Linked DNA regions of Homo sapiens. The protein of the gene in region 3 purifies or fractionates together with the protein of the main gene of each other region. This does not show direct contact. Each region holds a gene or a part of one and is shown on either strand. Other genes may lie near its edges. The genes, in order: AGPAT3, ALG8 and KDELR3.

What was found.
Region 1: the proteins of KDELR3 (region 3) and AGPAT3 purify together in Homo sapiens (affinity purification with mass spectrometry; 2 studies listed by BioGRID and IntAct, with this or other methods). This does not show direct contact.
Region 2: the proteins of KDELR3 (region 3) and ALG8 purify together in Homo sapiens (affinity purification with mass spectrometry; 2 studies listed by BioGRID and IntAct, with this or other methods). This does not show direct contact.

Annotation. Positions count from the first base shown.
Region 1 is NC_000021.9:43,980,162-43,987,269, reverse strand, and holds part of AGPAT3 (1-acyl-sn-glycerol-3-phosphate acyltransferase gamma), read right to left. Parts: intron 6,282-7,108; coding exon 6,083-6,281; intron 4,967-6,082; coding exon 4,878-4,966; 3' UTR 1-4,877. UniProt on the Homo sapiens protein: Converts 1-acyl-sn-glycerol-3-phosphate (lysophosphatidic acid or LPA) into 1,2-diacyl-sn-glycerol-3-phosphate (phosphatidic acid or PA) by incorporating an acyl moiety at the sn-2 position of the glycerol backbone.
Region 2 is NC_000011.10:78,101,623-78,108,730, forward strand, and holds part of ALG8 (dolichyl pyrophosphate Glc1Man9GlcNAc2 alpha-1,3-glucosyltransferase), read right to left. Parts: intron 6,143-7,108; coding exon of another isoform or gene 6,095-6,142; intron 5,325-6,094; coding exon 5,185-5,324; intron 2,832-5,184; coding exon 2,734-2,831; intron 2,431-2,733; coding exon 2,358-2,430; intron 1,327-2,357; coding exon of another isoform or gene 1,268-1,326; exon of another isoform or gene 1,252-1,267; intron 1-1,251.
Region 3 is NC_000022.11:38,470,992-38,478,099, reverse strand, and holds part of KDELR3 (ER lumen protein-retaining receptor 3), read right to left. Parts: intron 3,578-7,108; coding exon 3,477-3,577; intron 1-3,476.

The DNA.
Region 1 (7,108 bases), on a different chromosome or scaffold from region 3:
GAAACAGAGCCCGTGGGAGTGGGCTCTGAAGGTGGGTGGCCCCATGGGACAGGAGTGCCTGGTGGCCCTGGTTTCCCCTTGGAGACATCTATGCAGACTGGAAACGAAGAAACAGAAGGAGGCACGGAGTCGCTTTCTCTTATATTGTGGATATTTTATCCCTGTCTTTCACAGCAGCAATTTTAATAAACAGATGCCTGCAGCATTTCACCACTACACAAGAGCTACTCGCGCTCGGGCAGGCGCACACCTGCCTGTGTACACAGGTCCTCGCACAGCACGGCAAACGCAGCCAGGCCTTTGGGACACAGGCCTCTGAAGTGTAAGTTAGCAGCCCTCACCCCGACAAGCTTCTAAAGACCAAAAATACCTCTATCCTCCACTACATAAAGCTTGTGAGTAGCAAAACTTGTAAAAATGAAGTGTACAAAAGGAAACATCCGTATAATACATTTGCACCCTGTATACAATGGGTCCCTTTGAAACTGGCCAACAGTCAGCGATGGCAGATTTTCAATCATAGAAAAAGAAGCCAGTGGCTGTCATGCGCACTCAGGTCAATGGTTTGTGTGGGTTCTCCAGAGAGAGAGATTTTCCTTTACAGTTACAGTACTTGCTGGCGATCTTGCTGATTAAAAGGCCAGTTGAATTTCCTGGCATTTAGGCAAGTAACATTTGATTGTCACAACGTACAATTCTGAGACAATAAATACAAGTAGATCAGATGCATTTCTTCATTGTATCAAGTAACTCCAGTTTAATGTAATACAATTTAGTGCATTTCAGTATCTCATTCACAGTTCGACTTCTGTCCAAATACTTGTGCAACAAAAAGTTAAGAAATGGAGACGAACTCCAGGTGACATTGTCATTACACAGCTTCAAATTCTAAGACAACTCAATGATCTTTGAAAAGCGTACGCTGCTGTTGCCTGGGCCGGCGACACCAATGTCCCTGGTAACTTCCTGGGCTCCCTAAAAGTGTTCCCGTCATTCTATTTCCCGAGCAGTTTGTAAGAATGCCACCATTATCCCTGAATTAACAAGCAGCCAGTGGCGAGTGTTCATGATAAAACTGAATTCATGTGTCCACCCCACTCCAGCAGATCAGTGTGACATCTTTTACGCAAAAATTGTTTTTGCATCCTGGCCCCGATAGGCAGGAATACGGAGCCGGATGTCTGCATCCCCCAGGTCGGCCCCACGGCAGGGGTATGGGGCAGAGCCAGGGCGGAGTCAGGGGTGTGGCCGGCCCCATCCCCCGAGGCCCGAGGGGGCTTGCCTTTGGTTTGGGGACTAGCTCAGTAGAGAAAGGGGCAGGCACACGGCCGGGGACGTGCTGTTTCCAGAAAGAAGGCAGGCAGGCTTTTCGGGCTGGCCGTTTGAACCCTGAGCCTAGGTGCAGTGCAAGGGCTAGAAGCACATCGCGCCGTGGAGCACTAGTATTGCACGCCAGGGGCTGCATGCAGTGAGCCACAGGCCAGAGGCCTGCAGCGGGAGTCTACGCATGGGGCTGAACAAGTCAGGTGAAAATCTGCAGGGCTGGAGAGATTATACTTGGCTTGTTGTAGAAGTGTCTCAGGTAGAGACAAAGCATGCAGAAACTTACTCATTCTTCACCCCAAATCTGACCCCAACCGGTAGTCACAACAGGCATGGACAGCCTGGCAACAGCTACTCAATTGCACGTGAGTGAAACACACAGCTGGGTCCAACCACGGCTTTTCCTTCAAATCAACATCAATGCTCAGCAATACCGCAACGAACAGCGTGAGGAAAGATTCTCATGCCACGGTGCGCGAAAGGGAGTCGGGACAGGCAAGGCAGAGAGACTCAAAATTCATCGACAGGACGTGCTTTTTTTTTTTTTTTACACAAGAAAGTGCTGCTTACATTGTTGTTTTGTGTTATTTAGTGATTTGTTCAGCGCTCATCTCTTCCACCAGACTGCGCTTCCTGAGGACAGGGACCTTAAAGCACCTCACATAGGGTGCGCGTCTGGTACACTGTCGCCGAGTACCAGACAACCAGTGTCTCACACGGGGGAAGACGATGAAGACAGCAATGGCATCCTTGGGAAGATGGGCAGGAGACCCCATGACACCTGGCACCTGGGCCTAAGCTGGGAGGCCAGCGGCGTCCCCAGGAGACCACGGCCCAGGCTGGGAGCTTGACCGGCCAGACGCCCGTGGGTGGGCCTGGGCCCTCCCGCCTGGGAGCCTCCAGTGTGGCGCCTGGCTCTGGGTGGGTAACAGGAGCTACAGGCCAGCAATGCCCTTCCTGTCCTCGGCCTGGCTCAAGGACTGGGTGCAGAGGGCATCAGCGATGCCAGGCCTAGAATGTGCCTCACCCCGACAGTGGCCAGCACGGACTGTGGGCTACAGAGTTGCTTCAGCCTGAGCACTCAGCCTGAATTTGGACATAACATCAACTGAATTAAGCTCAGAAGTAGGGTGTAAAGGAAAAAGAAAAAAAAAAGACTGTTCTGGGATTTATGAATTTAATTTAAAAAATGTAAAGGAGCTCTCCTCCCCTTTTCCTTCTGGATGAAAAGCAAAATCCACCCTCCCCCCCCCAAAAAAAAAAAATTCAAACATTCATGGTGTAGTTTTTATTGCTCTTAAAGACTTGGTGTTGAGAAGCACAAGCTAAGCTGTGAGATGGGAAGGAAACCAGATGAGGTGTGACCCCTGCGCCTGGGCCTCCGTCTCCACTCTAACCTAGGGGCTGCCCAGCTCCGCCATGGCTCAGTGCAGAATTTATACATTATATATTAATTTCAAAGGGAGGGAACTTCTATGGGAAACAATAATAATTAAATCATAAAAGATCTAAATTTGCATTTTCCAGGTCACATATGTGCATGGTCGTACCCTTCAGCTTTTTTCCTTAAAGATTTTGCAGGTGTTAGTGAGTCAGTGAATGGCATGGATCTAAACACACATGGAGACGGATGAGCAGCGTGCGGCATGAGGAAGGTGCAGGAGAATCTCTGGGGTGCTCAGCCAGGGGAGCGCATGCCCTGCCCACGGCACAGCTGCCCGAGTGGGCGGGTGGAGGGATGAGATTTCAGATGGAGGGAAGCACATTTCCAAAACAACAGTGTCTGCAAGCGTGTCTCGCATGGTGTCGTTGGTCTCATCTGGTTTCGTTGGTCTGCCCCTTCACCCCTGCGAGGAGCCGTGCTCTGAGCAGGTGTGCACAGGTGGCGTCCCGCACACGCCCTGAGAGCACGGCCCCCACAGACCCGGGGCCCGGCAGCGCCTCCATCATGCAGAACGCTGCCGTCCCCTCCAATCTCCCCAGGACACTTAGGCCCGATGCCTAATTATGTTCTCGGTTTACTTTTCTTCATGCCTCTTTTCTCCATTTGTTTTCCCCTAGAAAACTCAACCTACCTCTATTCAGAACGCTGGTTTCAAGATATCAGAGATAACACCCATTTTGGTTTTTTTACCTTGCTAAAAAGATGAGGGCGCTGTGACTTAGAACAAGCAAGTCGAAAGCCAAATGCAGGTGGGCTGATGGTACCGCAACCAAGTTGAGCGTTCTACCACTGCCATTGCCCCAGGGGCCCCACCTGGCCATGCCGGGGGAGTGGACATGCTGTAGGGAGAAGCATCCCTCGCTCGGCGTGGGCCAGGGGCTCGCTGCAAGGCCAAGGGAGCCAGCATGACCGGCCGAGCGCTGCCCTCTGCTCTGCCTGGACTCTCAGAGACGTCCAGGAGGTAGGGAGCTGGGCGCTCAGGGGTGGCCGGGCCACAGTGACACCGGCCAGGATGGGGGCGGGCCTTCCCCAAGGACACAGTGCGAGGCTGGGGGGTGGGGGGTGCCCCACCTCTAGTTTCCAGCAGGAAGTTGAAAACCACCAAGAGATCAACCAGTAAAAATAAAATCTCTAGAAGTCAATGAGCTCAGTGTTAACAGTCTCCAACCACCTTTAAAAAACAGAGGGTTGACGGTGCCGTCGCTTCTTCTGAAGCATCCTAGAGTCCCACAGGCTGCCCTGTTCTCCCTCCTTGGCTCCTGATCTGTGGGATGGGGGGGCGCGCGGTAGCCCCGAGGGTCCTCCCTCCCCAGCACCCAGTGTGGAGGGACCAGGATCTGACAGCCATGAGAGCGACAAAGGAGCTTTAGGTGCATGGAGAACTCTGCATTTCACTGAGTTCTCAGGGGCCCATCCACTTTAAAAACAGATGTACGTATTTACACACAAGGTCAGATAGGAGCTAGGACAGACAGGGCTCTAGAAAGTGAGGTGGGGCGTTCGCCCTCAGCCAGCCCCAGGACAGGGCAGAGTGAGGGCTCCGACTTCGAGGAATGGACCTGACGTTCGTGCCGGTGTGCTTATCACTACGGGCGCCCTCCACGGGGCCCCCACTGGGAGCCAAGGTGCTGAGCCGAGCGATGCTCCCGGGGGACGGGACCCGGCCGTCCACTCCCAGGAGGACAGCAGAAATTCATTACGAGACAGTTTCGGGGGCGGGGGGTGCAGAAGAGGTGAGGGGCCAGGTTAAGTTCCCAAGATAACTGATTAAAAACCAAAAAATTTGATCTAAGTTTAAGGAGAGAAAGCAGCCAAAGGCTCCCTCTTGGAAGCGGAGTTCTGGAGAGACGGCGTCCGCGGGAGGCCTCTCCGGCCGGACCCACCTCCCACGGGCGCGCGTGGAGATGCTGGGACCCTGCGCTGTGGGAGGCTGAAGACTTCACCTGACAGGCCTTCTGAATTCTTTACTCTTGGCTCAAGTTTTGTTAATATTAGTCACCAGTTAATAAGAAAAATAGTTTCTAATTGTCTTTTCCTGCACTCTGTGTGTTGGTTTTGAGTTAACTGGATACCACCGTCAGGGCCGCGTGTGTTCAGTCACAGCCATTAATTATTCCTTTTTCTTAAACTCTTGGTTTCCGTAGCTGGAGCCTTTTTCTATCTCAGTTACTCCTATCAGTCTGCGAACTCCAAAGGAAGCTTTCAAGACAGGAGAGAGAGAGAAGAGGTGAGACGGATGACTTTGCCTTTTTGCTGTAAAACGTGTTACTGGGGCTTCCTTCCTCTGCCCCAGACCCTGTCCCTCTGCCCCGCACCCAGTGGCCTCTGCTGTCAGTGAGTAGGTGTGGCCCGCGGGGAGACAGCCCTCTCAGACCGTGGTCTGCTCAGGCAGGGGTGAGGGGCACGTCTTCTGACCGGCTGGGTCCGAGGCAGGTGGACACGTGGACCTTGCCCTGCCTGCCCCTCTGGGTCTTTGGCTGGTGGGAGCAGAAGGGCTTCGGGGCATTCTAACAGCTCGGCCTTGCAAACCCAACAGGTGACAGAGGTGGACGAGCAGGACCCTCGGATGTAAGCAGGTCACATCCTGTCCTCTGTGGGTGGCCTCAAGTCATCTCGTAGTCCAATGGGAGAGGCTGGTGGCAGTCACTGCCTCTCAGGACCCCTCCCACCAAGGCCCCTGGCAGGGGCGGCAGGAGCAGGGGAGGAGCTGGCCCAGCTGCTGGGCCTGGGGAGTCGGCTCACGGGGCGATGCACACGGACTGTGTCTCCACGGACAGAGACCCCTCAATTACGGGGTGTGGGTGGGCGCCGGAGCTCACCACAGGGACAGGCTGGGTGTCTGTTCGGCCCCAGGCTAGCTGATGAGTCGTGGTGGGCCTGGCATTGTGCCTGGGGTGGGCACACAGTGGGGAAGTCACTGGGGGTCAATGGGGAGGAGCTGAATGATGATGTCCTGCTTAAACCTCCCGAATGGCCAGCCCAGCCTGACCCCTAAGAGCCCAAAAGCAGACAGGGGGGCTGGGGACCCTCTCGGGGACCCTCTCGTCGGCATCCTCAAGGGCGCCAGCCAGTGGGGCTGCAGTGGGGATGGCGCCAGGTGGCGGCCGTTCGGCTCTCTGGGGAGGCGACCCTCAGCTCAGTGCAAGAATCCAGGCTCTGAGGCCCGCAGGCCGTGGGGGGATCCTGGCTCCAGGGTCCATAACAGCCAGGCCCCTGCCTCCCACAGCCACTGTGATGAGTCACCAGGTCCCGGACCCTGTGGCTGATACTGTGAGGCCCGTCAGAGTGTGAGCTGTTAGCGACAGTGTCCATTACCTGCTCCCACAAACCCCAAGAAAGTCAGGATCAGGAGAGGTGATCCGCTGGCAAAGACGCCCAAGACAAAACTGAAGAGGGGAGACAGGAGAATGGTGGCCCAGGACAGGAAGTTCAGGAGGGTCCACGGCCTCCGGGCAGGCTTAAACTGCTCCCCTGGAAACATGCCCTTCTGATTATATATCTCCTGGAGCGCGTCCTAGAAGAGTCAACAGAGAAAAAGGAAGCGTGAGGCTTCTTTACAAGCTATTATTTCAATGCAGGAGAAGATTGTTGGCAATGAAAAACGACTCAACCTAAAAAAAGCGCCACGTCAATTAAGAGCACAAATCACAGAAGCTGCAGGTGCAGGCGAAGCTGGCTGTACGTTTTTGGAGAATCTGATAGCGTGCATCGAGAGCTCGCAAGCATATCAACCCTTTGACTGAGGAAGTCTCCCAGGAAAATAATCGGTCAAGAAAGCAACGTTGTGAATACCAACACCTGCCTGCCCAGCACTGCCCCGGCCACCCGCCACATCCCACACCTCCCACGAGCCAGAGGCAGTGGGGGTGGCAGGTGTGGCCTGTGTGAGTCCCGCGGCCTGGATGCAAATCCCTGCAAAGCGCACTCTCAGCTGCACGGCCCAAGGAAAGTTCCTTAACCTCGCATACCTCGGTTTCCTAGCCTGGCAAAGGAGGCTAATGAGGAGCTGGGAGGAGAGAGGAGCCTGGCCAGGGCCACCTGCAGAAGGTTCTGCCTCTGGTGGGAATGTCAAAGGCACAGGCTGGCAGGAAATCACCATGCCTGATAGAGCAGACACTCCGCAGCCACTGCCCGTGGGCGGGGCAGCCCGTGGGACTCTAGGATGCTTGGGAAGTAGTGAAGGGCACCATCAACTCTCTCGTTTTTTTTTGTTTTTTTTTTTTTTTTGAGATGGAGTCTCACTCTGTCGCCCAGGCTGGAGTGCAGTGGTACGATCTCGGCTCACTGCAACCTCTGTCTCCCGGGTTTAAGCGATTCTCCTGCCTCAGCCTCCTGAGTAGC
Region 2 (7,108 bases), on a different chromosome or scaffold from region 3:
AATAAATAAAAATAAAAAATAAGTTTCACATTTAGAAAAAAATGATAATTATATACGTTATATTATCTCAACAATCTAAATTTACTCCACCATTGACCTATGCTGTTATTTAGCTCAAGCTGCTCAGAGAGAATTAGTTCTGCATTTGAAAGAGGTAAAGGGGTTGGGTGCTGTGACATTGGAATAAGAACATGAGAAACAATATAGAATTGAAGATTTAAAAAAAATTTTCTTTTTGAGATGGAGCGTTGCTCTGTCACCCAGACTGGAGTGCAGTGGTGCAATCTCAGCTTACTGCAACCTCCACCTCCTGGGTTCAAGCGATTCTCTTGCCTCAGCCTCCCAAGTAGCTGGGATTACAGGCGCCTGCCACCATGCCCAGCTAATTTTTGTATTTTCTATAGAGACAAGGTTTCACCAGATTTTTAAAATATTTTTTATTTTGGTAAAATATATATAACATGAAATTTGCTATTTGTTTAACCATTTTTAAGTATACAGTTTGATGGTATTAAGTAGATCAATAATATGCGCCCATCGCCACTATCCACCTTCAAAATATTTTCGTGACCCCAAACAGAAACTCTGGAACCATTAACAATAACTTCCCATCCCCCTGTTCCCTCAACCTCTAATCTACTTTCTGTCTCTATGTTTGTTTATTCTAGAATTTCCTATCAGTGGAACGATATGATATTTGTTCTATTCTCTCGTTTCTTTCACTTAGCATGTTTTCAAGATTCATTCATGTAGCATGTATTGGAACTTCATTCTTTTCTTTGGCTGAATAATCCACTATATGTATATATCACACTTTATCATGTATTTGTTGATGGACATTGGGTTGTTTCCATCTTTTAGCTAGTATGAATAATGCTACAATGAATACTGATGTACAAGTATCTGTTGAGTCCCTGTTTCCATTCTTTTGGGTATAGGGGTGGAATTGCTGGGTCACATGGCTATAACTGCATTTTAACATAGTTAATTATATAAGTTTTTATGGACACAGTTATGAACCATAAGCAAGCTTTAAAAAATTACAGTTGGCCGGGCATGGTGGCTCACACCTGTAATGCCAGCACTTTGGGAGGCCAAGGACGGTGGATCACCTGAGGTCAGGAGTTTGAGACCAGCCTGACCAACATGGAGAAACCCATCTCTACTAAAAATACAAAATCAGCTGGGTGTGGTGGCGCATGCTTGTAATCCTAGCTGCTAGGGAGGCTGAGGCAGGAGAATCGCTTGAACCTGGGAGGCGGAGGTTTCAGTTAGCTGAGATCGTGCCATTGCACTCCAGCCTGGGCAACAAGGGTGAAACTCCGTCTCAAAAAAAAAAAAAAAAAATTATAGTTAACATTACATACAGTTTAGAAGAGAAAAAGTTTCCATCTATAATTCTGTAGTAAAATTTGTACATAGTTGGGTGCGGTGGCTCAACGCCTGTAATCCCAGCACTTTGGGAGGCCGAGGTGGGTGGATCACCTGAGGTTGGGAGTTCAAGACCAGCCTGACCAACACAGAGAAACCCCATCTCTAATAAAAATACAAAATTAGCCGGGCACAGCAGCTCACGCCTGTACTTCCAGCACTATGGGAGGCCAAGGTAAGTGGATCACCTGACGTCAGGAGCTCGAGAGCAGCCTGGCCAACATGGTGAAACCCCACCTCTACTAAAAATATAAAAAATTAGCCAGGTGTGGTAGTGATGCATACCTATAATCTCAGCTACTCAGGAGGCTGAGGCTGGAGAATCGCTTGAACCCAGGAGGCGGAAGTTGCAGTGAGTGGAGATCGCGCCACTGCACTCCAGCCTGGGCGACAAGAGTGAAACTCCGTCTCCAAAAAAAAAAAAATTAGCTGGGCATGGTGGCGCATGCCTGTAATCCCAGTAACTTGGGAGGCTGAGGCAGGAGAATAGCTTGAACCCGGTAGGCGGAGGGTGTGGTGAGCCGAGATCACGCCATTGCCCTCCAGCCTGGGCAACAAGAGCAAAACTCCGTCTCAAAAAAACGAACAAAAAAAATTTGTACATAGTATCTTTTAGTTTTTTCCATATCTATCTGTATTTAATAGTTTTATTCATAAAGCATATTTTACATTCAGTTTTTGAGTTTTCATATAGGATTTTAATTTAAGTAGTCCTCCTCAAATACTCCCCCAAACTAAAGACACAAACTATGTTGTCTCGACTGAGTGATGGGATTGAGTGATTTCTCCCTCTATTTACCAATTTTTTTTGTAATGTTGTCATATTACTGTTATAACTTAAAAATAAAATTTAAAGAGCTTATTTGACCACTTAGGTGTAAACATTTCACAAGAGTAAGTATAATTTTAAACATTTTTTTGATTACCTGAATAAAGTCTTCAGTGACGAAATACTATATATGGTGAATAGTAACATGAGTAAGATTTTAATGGGAAGTTCTGTTAAAAGAATAGAAAAAAAAAGATAATTTAGCTGATGACAGAAAGACTTATGATGCTGAAAGTAATATAAGCACACTGACACAGCTATATAGTGCTAATAATACTTTTTAAGTTTAATTTTACATTTTTGTGACATCTAGAGATGCTGAGAATTACAGGAAATTGGAGGTTTTATTTAAGAGGATGAATGATCTCTATCCAAGAGATTTTAGAGTTGTTTAAATTAGATGTATTAATCTGTGGGCCTCGATGAAAAGGTTGTGATAGTCAAATATATTTTTCTCAGAAGACGCTGTTTACCTGGTGCAGTGAAGAGCAGAGGAAAGAGGGAATAATGTCCTGTTGTGGTCAGAATCAGAAAAATCGAAGCGTCTCCTGCTTTTCCCACAGACAAAAGGCTAAAAATAAAAATAATTTCTTAAAACAACAACTGTTATTACACTTGCAAATAGCTTAAATAAACTGCATCTCCTATTACATTAGAACTGGCTGAGGCATAGAAGAACATGCTGATTTTGGCACAAGTTCAATTTAGTTGAGAATATTAATTTTTTAGTAGGAAATTTTAAGCAATCAATAGCATGTATCAAACTGAATCAGGGGTATCGTAAAAGAATCTTGCTTCTGGCCGGGGACAGTGGCTCATGCCTTTAATCCCAGCACTTTGGGAGGCCGAGGCGGGAGGATCACCTGAGGTCAGGAATTCAAGAGCAGCCTGGCCAACATGGTGAAACCCTGTCTCTGCTAAAAATACAAAAATTAGCTGGGCATGGTGGCGGGTGCTTGTAATCCCAGCTACTCAGGAGGCTGAGGCAGGAGAATTGCTTGAACCTGGGAGGCAGAGGATGCAGTGAGCCGAGATCGCGCCACTGCACTCCAGCCTGGGCAACAGAGCGAGACTCTGTCTCAAAAAAAAAAAAAAAAGAATCTTGCTTCCCTGAGTAATTGCCTTCTCCAAAGACAGGAATGTTGTGGGATTGGGAGCTGCCTAGTGGTGGCAGTCAGGGAAACAGGACTTGGAGTTTCATTTCCAACCCTATAGCTCATCTCTTGGACAATGCCCTTCACCTGCTGGTGTTTGGTGTGAATTCAGACTAAAGACATTAAAAGTTTTTGCTTTACTTTTTAATTTGGAAACTCCAAGCTGCTAAATAAACCCAGACAAGCCACATACTGGCCTGACAAATTTGCTTAATATATGTTCAGAGCTTAAATGATTTCTCAAGATTCAAGAAAAATATAAAGAAAGAGGCTATTATTACCATTTATTTATCTATTGGGTTTCAACTATGCCTAAACTGGACACTTACATTTAAAATGGTTTTTTTAGCATGGCATAGTGAAAAGATCATAGATTCAACATCATAAGATTCAGGTCCTAACTCTAATTCTTGCGACCTGTATGACTTTGGACAAGTCACAAACATTTTGAGCCCTAGATTCTTCAGATGTTAAGACAGGGAATAAGCCTGTTTTGTTGGCTCACATCTGCAATCCCAGCACTTTGGGAGGCTGAGGTAGGAAGACTGCTTGTGCCCAGTAGTTTGAGACCAGCCTAGGCAACATGGCAAGACCCTGTCTCTACCAAAAAGTAAAAAAAAAAAAAAGAAAGGAAAAAAAAGGGAATAATACCCATTTATTTTAACTATCTTTTTTTTTTTTCTTTTTTTGAGACAGGGTCTCACTCTATTGCCCCAGGCTGGAGTGCAGTGGCGCCATCTTGGCTCACTGCAACCTTCACCTCCCAGGTTCAAAGGATCTTCATGCCTCAGCCTCCCAAGTAGCTGGGATTACAGGCATGCACCACCATGCCTGGCTAATTTTTGTATTTTTAGTAGAGATGGGATTTTGCCATGTTGGCCAGGCTGATCTCAAACTCCTGGCATCAAGTGAACCACCGCTTCAGCCTCCGAAAGTACTGGGATTGCAGATGTGAGCCACCATGCCTGGCCAATTATCTTAAAGATTATTGTGAGGCGCAAAAGAAAGAATGCAAAACAAAAACAGTTCTGGAAAATCTGAAATGTAGTACAGTATCAGGTATTATTCCAGAATAGACTAAATCCTTACTTTGACTAACAACACTTAACAAGGAACCATGGGACCTTATTTTCAGACGGGATGACACCAAAGCCCAAGTTTTTTCTTTTTTTCATTTTTGAGACAGAGTCTCCTTCGGTCACCCAGAATGGAATGCAGTGGTGCGATCTCGGCTCACTGCAACCTCTTCCTCCCGGGTTCAAGCAATTCTCCTGCCTCAGCCTCCCGAGTAGCTGGGACTACAGGCATGTGCCACTATGCCCAGCTAATTTTTTGTATTTTTAGTAGAGATGGGGTTTCACCATGTTAGCCAGGATAGTCTCGATCTCCTGACCTCGTGATCTGCCCGCCTTGGCCTCCCTAAGTGCTGGGATTACAGGCGTGAGCTACCGCGCCCGGCCAGCCCAGGTTTTTTCTATAACATACTGTCCCTCAATGATCAGATCTAAAAGCCGGCTTTCATGGTACTTAATCACTACAGTGCTTCTTTCCAAAAACGCAGAAACAGAAATAGTACATGCATTTTTGCATACCTTCATGGGTCCAAGAATCTCAAGTTAAGCATCCCTGTCCTGTCCTAGTGGACATCTGTTCCTATACATCTTTGTTTTTGCCTATCCTGGTGAACATGACAAGAAGGGACAGAGCAAATAGAAAATAGGATCATTGTGAAATATGCCAAAATGCTCACTGGCTGAGCTATCTGCTTACCTCATTGGGAGAATTGCTAGAAGTATGGCTTTTTCATGAACATGCCACCCAAACATAAAGGAGCTCAAGGCACAAAGAGTTAGACATCGGAGAAAGCCTCTGGGCCCTTGGGGTTTAAACCAAAGACAGAAAATAGAGGGCTAGAAACAACAGGCAAAGATAAACTTCAGTATCATTTGAAACAGACTTTACAGAAACAGAGTTCAGGTGAATACAATTTGCATCATCTCTGAAAGACAGCCAATCTTAGACAATTCTTCATGAAACCGAATCATTCATCACTTTGTGCACAGTCTAACAAAAGTTAACATAAAAGCAACAACTCAGAAAAAATTGGCATTTGATGTGTATATATATATTTTTATATGTAAATAAATATATTTTATATGTAAATATATATATATATATATATATATAATTTTTTGTTTTTTTGAGACGGAGTCTCGCTTTGTTGCCAAGGCTGGAGTGCAGTGGTGCGATCTCGGCTCACTGCAACCTCCACCTCCTGGGTTCAAGCGATTTTCCTGCCTCAACCTCCCAAGTAGCTGGGATTACAGGTGCCTGCCACCACGCCCAGCTAATTTTTGTATTTTTAATAGAGACGGGGTTTCACCATGTTGGCCAGGCTGGTCTCAAAATCCTGACCTCGTGATCTGCCTGCCTTGGCCTCCCAAAGTGCTGGGATTACAGGTTTGAGCCACCGCACCTAGCCTTGATGTATATATTTAACTCATTAAAATTAATTCTACTGGCTGGGCATGGTGGCTCATGCCTATAATCCCAGCACTTTGGGAGGCCAAGGCAGGCAGATCACTTGAGGTTAGGAGTTCAAGAACAGCCTGACCAACATAGTGAAACCCCATCTCTACTAAAAATACAAAAAAAACTAGCTGGGCGTGGTGGTACATACCTGTATTCCCAGGTACTCTGGAGGCTGAGGCAGGAGAATCGCTTGAACCTGGGAGGCAGAGGTTGCAGTGAGCTGAAATTGCGCCACTGCACTCCAGCCTAGGTGACAGACCGAGACTGTCTCAAAAAAAAAAAAAAAAAAAAAAATTGGCCGGGCCTAGTGACTCACGCCTGTAATCCCAGAACTTTGGGAGGCTGATGCAAGTCGATTACGAGGTCAGGAGTTCAAGACCAGCCTGGCCAAGATGGTGAAACCCTGTCTCTACTAAAAACTACAAAAAAGGCCGGGTGTGGTGGCTCAGGCCTATAATCCCAGCACTTTGGGAGGCCGAGGTGGGCGGATCACGAGGTCAGGAGATCGAGACCATCCTGGACAACATGGTGAAACCCTGTCTCTACTAAAATACAAAAAAAATTAGCCGGGCGTGGTGGTGCATGCCTGTAGTTCCAGCTACTCAGGAGGCTGAAGCAGGGGAATCGCTTGAACCCAGGAGGTGGGGGTTGCAGTGAGCTGAGATCGTACCACTACACTCCAGCCTGGCAACAGAACAAGACTCCCGTCTCAAAAAACAAAAACAAAAACAAAAACAAAACTACTGCAAAACAATTAGCTGGGTGCAGTGGCAGGCGCCTGTAATCCCAGCTACTTGGGAGGCTGAGGCAGGAGAATCGCCACTGCACTCCAGCCTGGATGACGGAGTGAGACTCTGTCTCAAAAAAAAAAGAAATTAATTATACTATCAAAATTAATAATTAAGTTCTGGGATGTACAGTCTAACAACTTATTACATCTTCATAATTAGTTTACTAATAGTTCATTTATTAATGAACCTAATAGGTCAAACTACAGAAGTCCATAGATGCTTTTGAGCCAATAAATTAGATTTACCATATTAATAAATACTTAGTTTTATTGGCTGGAAGGCCATAGAAACTATATGTACCTCATAAGGCTGAAATTTTAGGAAAAATGTTTTACCTCAATTAAAATATGTGAACAAACAGCCCAACAGAG
Region 3 (7,108 bases):
ATGTGAACATACTCATTTTAGCCCGTGATCACATGCTCTGTAAATGTCTAGGTACAAGTCCATCTCCCCTCTAAGAGAGGACTCCGTGGCAAGGTCCACCTCCTAATCCCCAGCTCCTAACTCAGTCCCTGGCACAAAACAAATGCTGGAATGAGTGAATGAGGTGGTCACTTTTTCATTTCATAAATGTAGAAACTAGCCTCTTTGAGCTTCCTAGACCTCATTCAGCTATGGCAAGGGCTGAGTCTGCTGTCTCTGCCAGGAATGCCCAAGGCTGACTTGGGCTGAGAAATGAACTAGCAGGTGATGTTTGATACATGTGTGAACTTAAGTAGACGGTGATTTCCAGTCCTCAGATTCACATTCACTAAATCTGAATGAGTTCAACACCTCACAAGTAACAGCAACCTCCACTCTACCAACTAGTAACAACATGCCTGAAATCCCAAAGGGATGTCTCTGATATGGAAGAAAAGGACAACTCACTTTAGTTAAATATTTTCTAGGTGCTGTATGTTATCTCATGTGATCTTCTCAATAGCCCTGCAAGATAGAATTCCCCCATGGAACCCTTGTTCCTTAGAAATAAGATTCCTAGGCCAGGCACGGTGGCTCTCGCCTGTAATCCCAGCACTTTGGGAGGCCGAGGAGGGTGGATCACGAGGTCAGGAGTTCGAGACCAGCCCGGCCAACATAGTGAAACCCCGTCTCTACTAAAAATACAAAAATTAGCCAGGCATGGTGGTGTGCACCTGTAATCCCAGCTACTCAGGAGGCTGAGGCAGGAGAATTCGCTTGAACCTGGGAGGCGGAGGTTGCAATGAGCCGAGATCACACCACTGCACTCCAGCCTGGGCAACAGAGGGAGACTGTCTCAAAATAAAAAAGACTGGGCATGGTGGCTAATGCCTGTAATCCCAACACTTTGGGAGGCCGAGGTGGGCAGATCACGAGGTCAGGAGACCATCCTGGCTAACATGGTGAAACCCCGTCTTTATTAAAAATACAAAAAAAAAAAAAAAAAAGTTAGCCAGGCATGGTGGCACACATCTGTAATCCCAGCTACTCGGGAGGCTGAGGCAGAATCTCTTGAACTTGGGAGGTGGAGGTTGCAATGAGCCGAGATCGCGCCACTGCACTCCACCCTGGGCGACAGAGCTAGATTCTGTCTAAACAATAAATAAATAAATAACTTGAACCCGGGAGCAGAGACTGCAGTGAGCCAAGATCGTGCCACTGCACTCCACTCTGTCTCAAAAAAAAAAAAAAAAGGGGGGGCCAGGTGTGGTGGCTCACGCCTGTAATTCCAACACTTTGGGGGGCCAAGGTGGGCAGATCACGAGGTCAGGAGTTTGAGACCAGCCTGGCCAACATAGTGAAACCCCGTCTCTATCAAAAAATACAAAAAGTAGCCGGGCGTGGTGGTGGGTGCCTGTAATCCCAGCTACTCTGGAGGCTGAGGTAGGAGAATTGCTTGAATCCAGGAGGCAGAGGTTGCAGTGAGCCGAGATTGCACCACTGCACCCCAGCCTGAGCCACAGTGCAAGACTCCATTTCAACAACAACAAAAAAGAAGACTCCTGGCCGGGCGCAATGGCTCACACCTGTAATCCCAGCACTTCGGGAGGCCGAGGCGGGCAGATAACAAGGTCAGGAGATCGAGACCATCCTGGCTAATAAGGTGAAACCCTGTCTCTACTAAAAATACAAAACTTAGCTGGGCGCAGTGGCAGGCGCCTGTAGTCCCAGCTACTCGGGAGGCTGAGGCAGGAGAATGGCGTGAACCCGGGAGGCGGAGCTTGCAGTGAGCCGAGATTGCCCCACTGCACTCCAGCCTGGGCGACAGAGCGAGACTCCGTCTCAAAAAAAAAAAAGACTCCTAGCTGATCATGGTAATTCCAGAACTTCGGGAGACTGACACAGGCAGATCACTTGAGCCCAGGGGTTTGAGACCAGCCTGGGCAACATGGTGAAATCTTGTCTCTATTAAAAATACAAAAAAATTAGCCAGGCATGGTGGTGCGTGCCTGTAGTCCCAGCTACTCAGGAGTCTGAGGTGGGAGGACCCCTTCAGCCCGGGAAGTTGAGGCAGTGAGCCATGATCGCACCACTGCACAAGAAATAAGATTCCTATTAGATAATGTGTCCAACTAAAATCTACATCTTGGCTGGGCATGGTGGCTCACACCCATAATCCCAGCACTTTGGGAGGTCGAGGTGGGTGGACCACTTGAGGTCAGGAGCGTGAGACCAGCCTGGCCAACATGGAGAAACCCTGTCTCTCCTAAAAATACAAAAATTAGCTGGACATGGTGGCACATGCCTGTAGTCCCAGCTACTTGGGAGGCTGAGGCACAAGGCAAGCTCCCGGCTTGAAACCAGGAGGTGGAGGCTGCAGTGAGCTGAGATTGCGCTGCTGCACTCCAGCCTGGGCAACAGAAAACAGTGAGACTCCGTCTTAAAAAAACAGAAAGAAGGTGTGTCCTTTGATCTTTACATGGCTGGTTCCTTGTTGTCACTAAGCTGTCAGCTTACATGTCATCTCTTTGAAGATGCCCTGACCACACTCCCTGAAGTAGCTCTCTAATCCTTCTCTATCACCTAAATAATTTTTTTTTTCTTGAGACGGGATCTCACTCTGTTGCCCAGACTGGAGTACAGTGGCATGATCATGGCTCACTGCAGCCTTGATCTACCAAGATCAGGTGATTGTCCCACCTCAGCCTCCTGAGTAGCTGGGACCACAGATGAGCACCACTACGCCCAGCTAAATTTCTTAAATTTTATGTAGAGGCGGAGTCTCACTGCATTGCCCAGGCTGGTCTCAGACTCCTGAGCTCAAGCGGTCCTCTCGCCTTGGCCTCCCAAAGTGCTGGGATTACAGGTGTGACCCTTTATTGAATGTTTAATATATGGCAGGGTTTTTTACATTTACATTTATTATCTCATTTAATGTTCCCAACCAAACCCTCTGAGCTAAGTAATGGTACTGTCTTTTTTTTTTTTTTTTTTTTTTTTTTGAGACAGAGTCTCACTCTGTCACCCAGGGTGGAGTGCAGTGGCGCGATCTCGGCTCACTGCAACCTCCGCCTCCCAAGTTCAAGCAACTCTCCTGCCTCAGCCTCCTGAGTAGCTGGGACTGCAGGCATGAGCCACCACGCCCGGCTAATTTTTTGTATTTTTAGTAGAGACAGGGTTTCACCTTGTTAGCCAGGATGGTCTCCATCCGCCCGACTCGGCCTCCCAAATTGCTGGGATTACAGGCATGAGCCACAGTGCCCAGCCCTGTCCTCATTTTTGCACGAGGACACTGACATACAAAGAGGCCCAAGATGAGGTCTTGCAGCCACTAAGCAGCAAAGTCAGGATTCAAACCCAGGTCGGCCTGGCTCCACAGAATGAGTTTCCAAGCAGGCTACCTCACAGTTTGTGGGGGCTTGGTGGCTTCCCCCAACCATCATCACCCAGCCCCTCACCTTCATTACTGTGTTGTAGATGGAGATGAAGTTGGTGAACAGGTCCAGGTACCTGGTGGTGAAGACGAGAGCAAACAGGATCTGGCTCTTCCCAGAGATGCCTGTGGCCAAGGGTAGACAGGAGACAATGAGGACACAGACTCCCAAGCCTGCCCACCCTCAAGAGGTGCACAGCCTGGAGCTGGGGAGGCCTCTAGAGTGTCCACTCCCACTCAAAGACCTCCTGTCCAGGGCACTGTCGCTCCCTAAGGGCCAGGAAACTCACCCTTCCCATCGGATCACTTGAGTCGTCGTTCCTCTCATTAAACTGTAATCTGTCTCCCAGTCTCCAAATAAAGACACGAACACCGAGTTCCCAGTCCCCCTGCGTGTGCCTGCCTGGGCTCTTGCTCTGGGGAGGATGTCGGGGGTGGTGTGAGTCGGGCTTGGTGGGGGTTGTTGAGGCTTCTCTTCACTCCACCCCCAGAGTTCCACTGACAGTCCCCAAAGCTCAGTCTTAGGAGGAACAACTCACTGACTTTACAAGGTGTTGATTCACCAGGGAGACCAGAGCAGGCAGAGGAAGGTTCAGGGCCAGGGGAGCATTCTATTTTATTTTTCAAACTGTAAGATTTAAAAAGCCTTTTTTCTTTTTTCTTTTTTCTTTTTTTGAGATGGAGTCTCACTCTGTTGCCCAGGCTGGAGTGCAGTGGCGTGATCTCGGCTCACCACAACCTCTGCCTCCTGGGTTCAAGTGATTCTCCTGCCTCAGCCTCCGAAGTAGCTGGGATTACAGGTGCCTGCCACCACGCCTGGCTAATTTTTGAATTTTTAGTAGAGACGGAGTTTCGCCAGGTTGGTCATGGCTGGTCTCAAACTTCTGACTTCAAGTGATCTGCCCGCCTTGGCCTCCCAAAGTGCTGGGATTACAGGCATGACCCACCACGCCCAGCCAAAAAGCCTTTTTTCTAGTTACAAAAGTTATGCCTATATTTACTCTTTGCAAAACAAAAATCAAACAATATACAAAGATGCAAAGATAAAAATATTCCAAACCCCTAGTGTTCATCCTTCCATATCTTTGTGAACATGTACACACATGACACCTATGTGTACACATATGATGCACATGGATGCACTGAGTTGACAAAAAAGGGTTCATACTCTCCATGATGTTTCTTTCTTTTTTATTTTTTTCTTTTTAGAGAAAGGGTCTTACTCTGTCTCCCAGGCTGGGGTGCAGTGGTGCAATCATAGCTCACTGCAGCCTCTATCTCCTGGACTCAAACAATTCTCCTATCTCAGCCTCCCGAGTAGCTGGTAACTACAGACACAAACCATCAGACTGGCAAATTTTATTATTAATTATTATTATTATTATTTTTGTAGAGACAGAGTTTCACTATGTCGCCCAGCCTGGTCTCAAACTCCTGGGCCCAAGTGATCCTCCTACCTCATTCTCTCAGTGTTGGGATTATAGGCGTGAGCCACCGCGCCCAGTCTAAATGCTGTTTCTTGACCCACTTTGGTCTCTTTCTTTTTTTAACTTTTTATTTTGAAAGAATGTTAGATTTACAACAGAGTTGTAAAGACAGTACAGAGAATCCCACATATCCAGCTATATCTAGTGTTAACATCGTATTTGGGCCGGGGGCGGTGGCTCATGCCTGTAATCCAACACTTTGGGAGGCCGAGGCGGGCAGATCACCTGAGGTTGGGAGTTTGAGACCAAGCCTGACCAACTTGGAGAAACCCCATCTCCACTAAAAAATACAAAATTAGCCAGGTGTGGTGGCTCATGCCTGTAACCCCAGCTACTTGGGAGGCTGAGGCAGGAGAATCGCTTGAACCCAGGAGGTGGAGGTTGCAGTGAGCCGAGATCGTGCCATTGCACTCCAGCCTGGGCAACAAGAGCAAAACTCTGTCTTAAAAAACAAAACAAAACAAAACAAAAAAACATCGTATTTAGTGACAGTACTTTATCAAAACAAAGAAATCAACATCAGTAGAGCACTGTTGACTGAACTCCAGGCTTTATTCTGATTTCACCAGTTTTCCCACTGCTGCCCTTTTTCCATTCCTGGATTCCATCCCGGAATCCATGCTGCATTTTGTTGTCATGCTCCTTAGTGTCCTTTGGCCACTTTTTATTTATTTATTTATTTTTTGAGACAGAGTCTCACTCTGTCACCCAGGCTGGAGTGCAGTGGTGCGATCTCGACTCACTGCAACGTCTGCCTCCCGGGTTCAAGTCATTCTCCTGCCTCAGCCTCCCGGGTGGCTGGGATTACAGGCGCCCACCATCATGCCCGGCTAATTTTTGTGTTTTTAGTAGAGATGGGTTTTCACCGTGTTGGCCAGGCTGGTCTCGAACTCCTGACCTCAAGTGACTGCCCACTTCGGCCTCCCAAAGTGCTGGGATTACAGGCGTAAGCCACTGTGCCCGGACAGCAGTCTTGGTTATCAGATGGAAGAAACAGTATATATATAGGGTTTGGTTTAACCCGTGGTTTCAGGCATCCACTGGCAGTCTTGGAACATATCCTCCGTGGATAAGGGGGAACTACTGTGCTGTCTAATTCAGGGTCTGGTTCCCCTGTACCCCTGAACTGTGCCTTCTCTAACCATCCCTCTGGTTCCAGACATTTGGGGTGGGAGAACATTTTTTTTTCTTTTTTTGTGAGGCAGGGTCTCACTCTGTCACCCAGGCTGGAGTGCAGTGACACAATCACAGATCACTGCAGCCTCAACCTCCCAGGCTCGGATGACCCCCCTACCTTAGCCTCCTGAGTAGCTGGGACTACAGGCACATGCTACCATGCCCAGCTAATTTTTATATTTTTTCTAGAGACAAGATTTTGCCATGTTGCCCAAGCTGGTCTCAAATTCCTGGGCTCAGGTGATCCTCCTGCCTCAGCTTCCCAAAGTGCTGGGATTACATGGGTAAGCCACTGCACCCAGCCTGGGGGAACATTTTTAATGAGCAAGAAGGAACACCCCTGAAGTCCCTAACATTCTGGAGAATGTGCTGGCTTTAGGGCGAGCCTCGGTCTCACATTCCTCACCTGCCAAACGGCCCCTCATGCAGAGTGGCAGGACTGAGCTGAGGAATACACAGTGCTCAGTGAGAACCTGAGTCCCTCTGGGGGGTCTAGCACGCGCGCACGTGCACTAGCCGGGGTGAGGGCAACAGTGGGGCTGGCAGTGGGTAATGAACCCCACTGGGGGAGGCCATACTGACCTGAGGCCAGCTCTGGGATGGCCTGATGTTCATCTCACTGAGCCCTCACACAGACTTTGACAGAGAAGCCCTCAGCCCCACGAAGGACTGCCTGGGAGGCAGCCCTGGTGGGGGACGCTTGGTCACCCGCTTGGGCCTTCCCCTACCCCTCTTTTCTCTTCATCCTCAGCCTGCCAGTCCCCTGGGTTTTACTCACATTTTCCTTAGCACTTTGGGAACCCTTGTGATCTTCAGTTTTGTTTTGCTTGTTTGTTTGTTTGAGACAGAGTTCTGCTCTTGTTGCCCAGGCTGGAGTGCAATGGTGCAATCTCAGCTCACTGCAACCTCCGCCTCCCAGGTTCAAGCGATTCTCCTGCCTCAGCCTCATGAGTAGCTGGGATTACAGGCACCTGCCACCATACTCAGATAATTT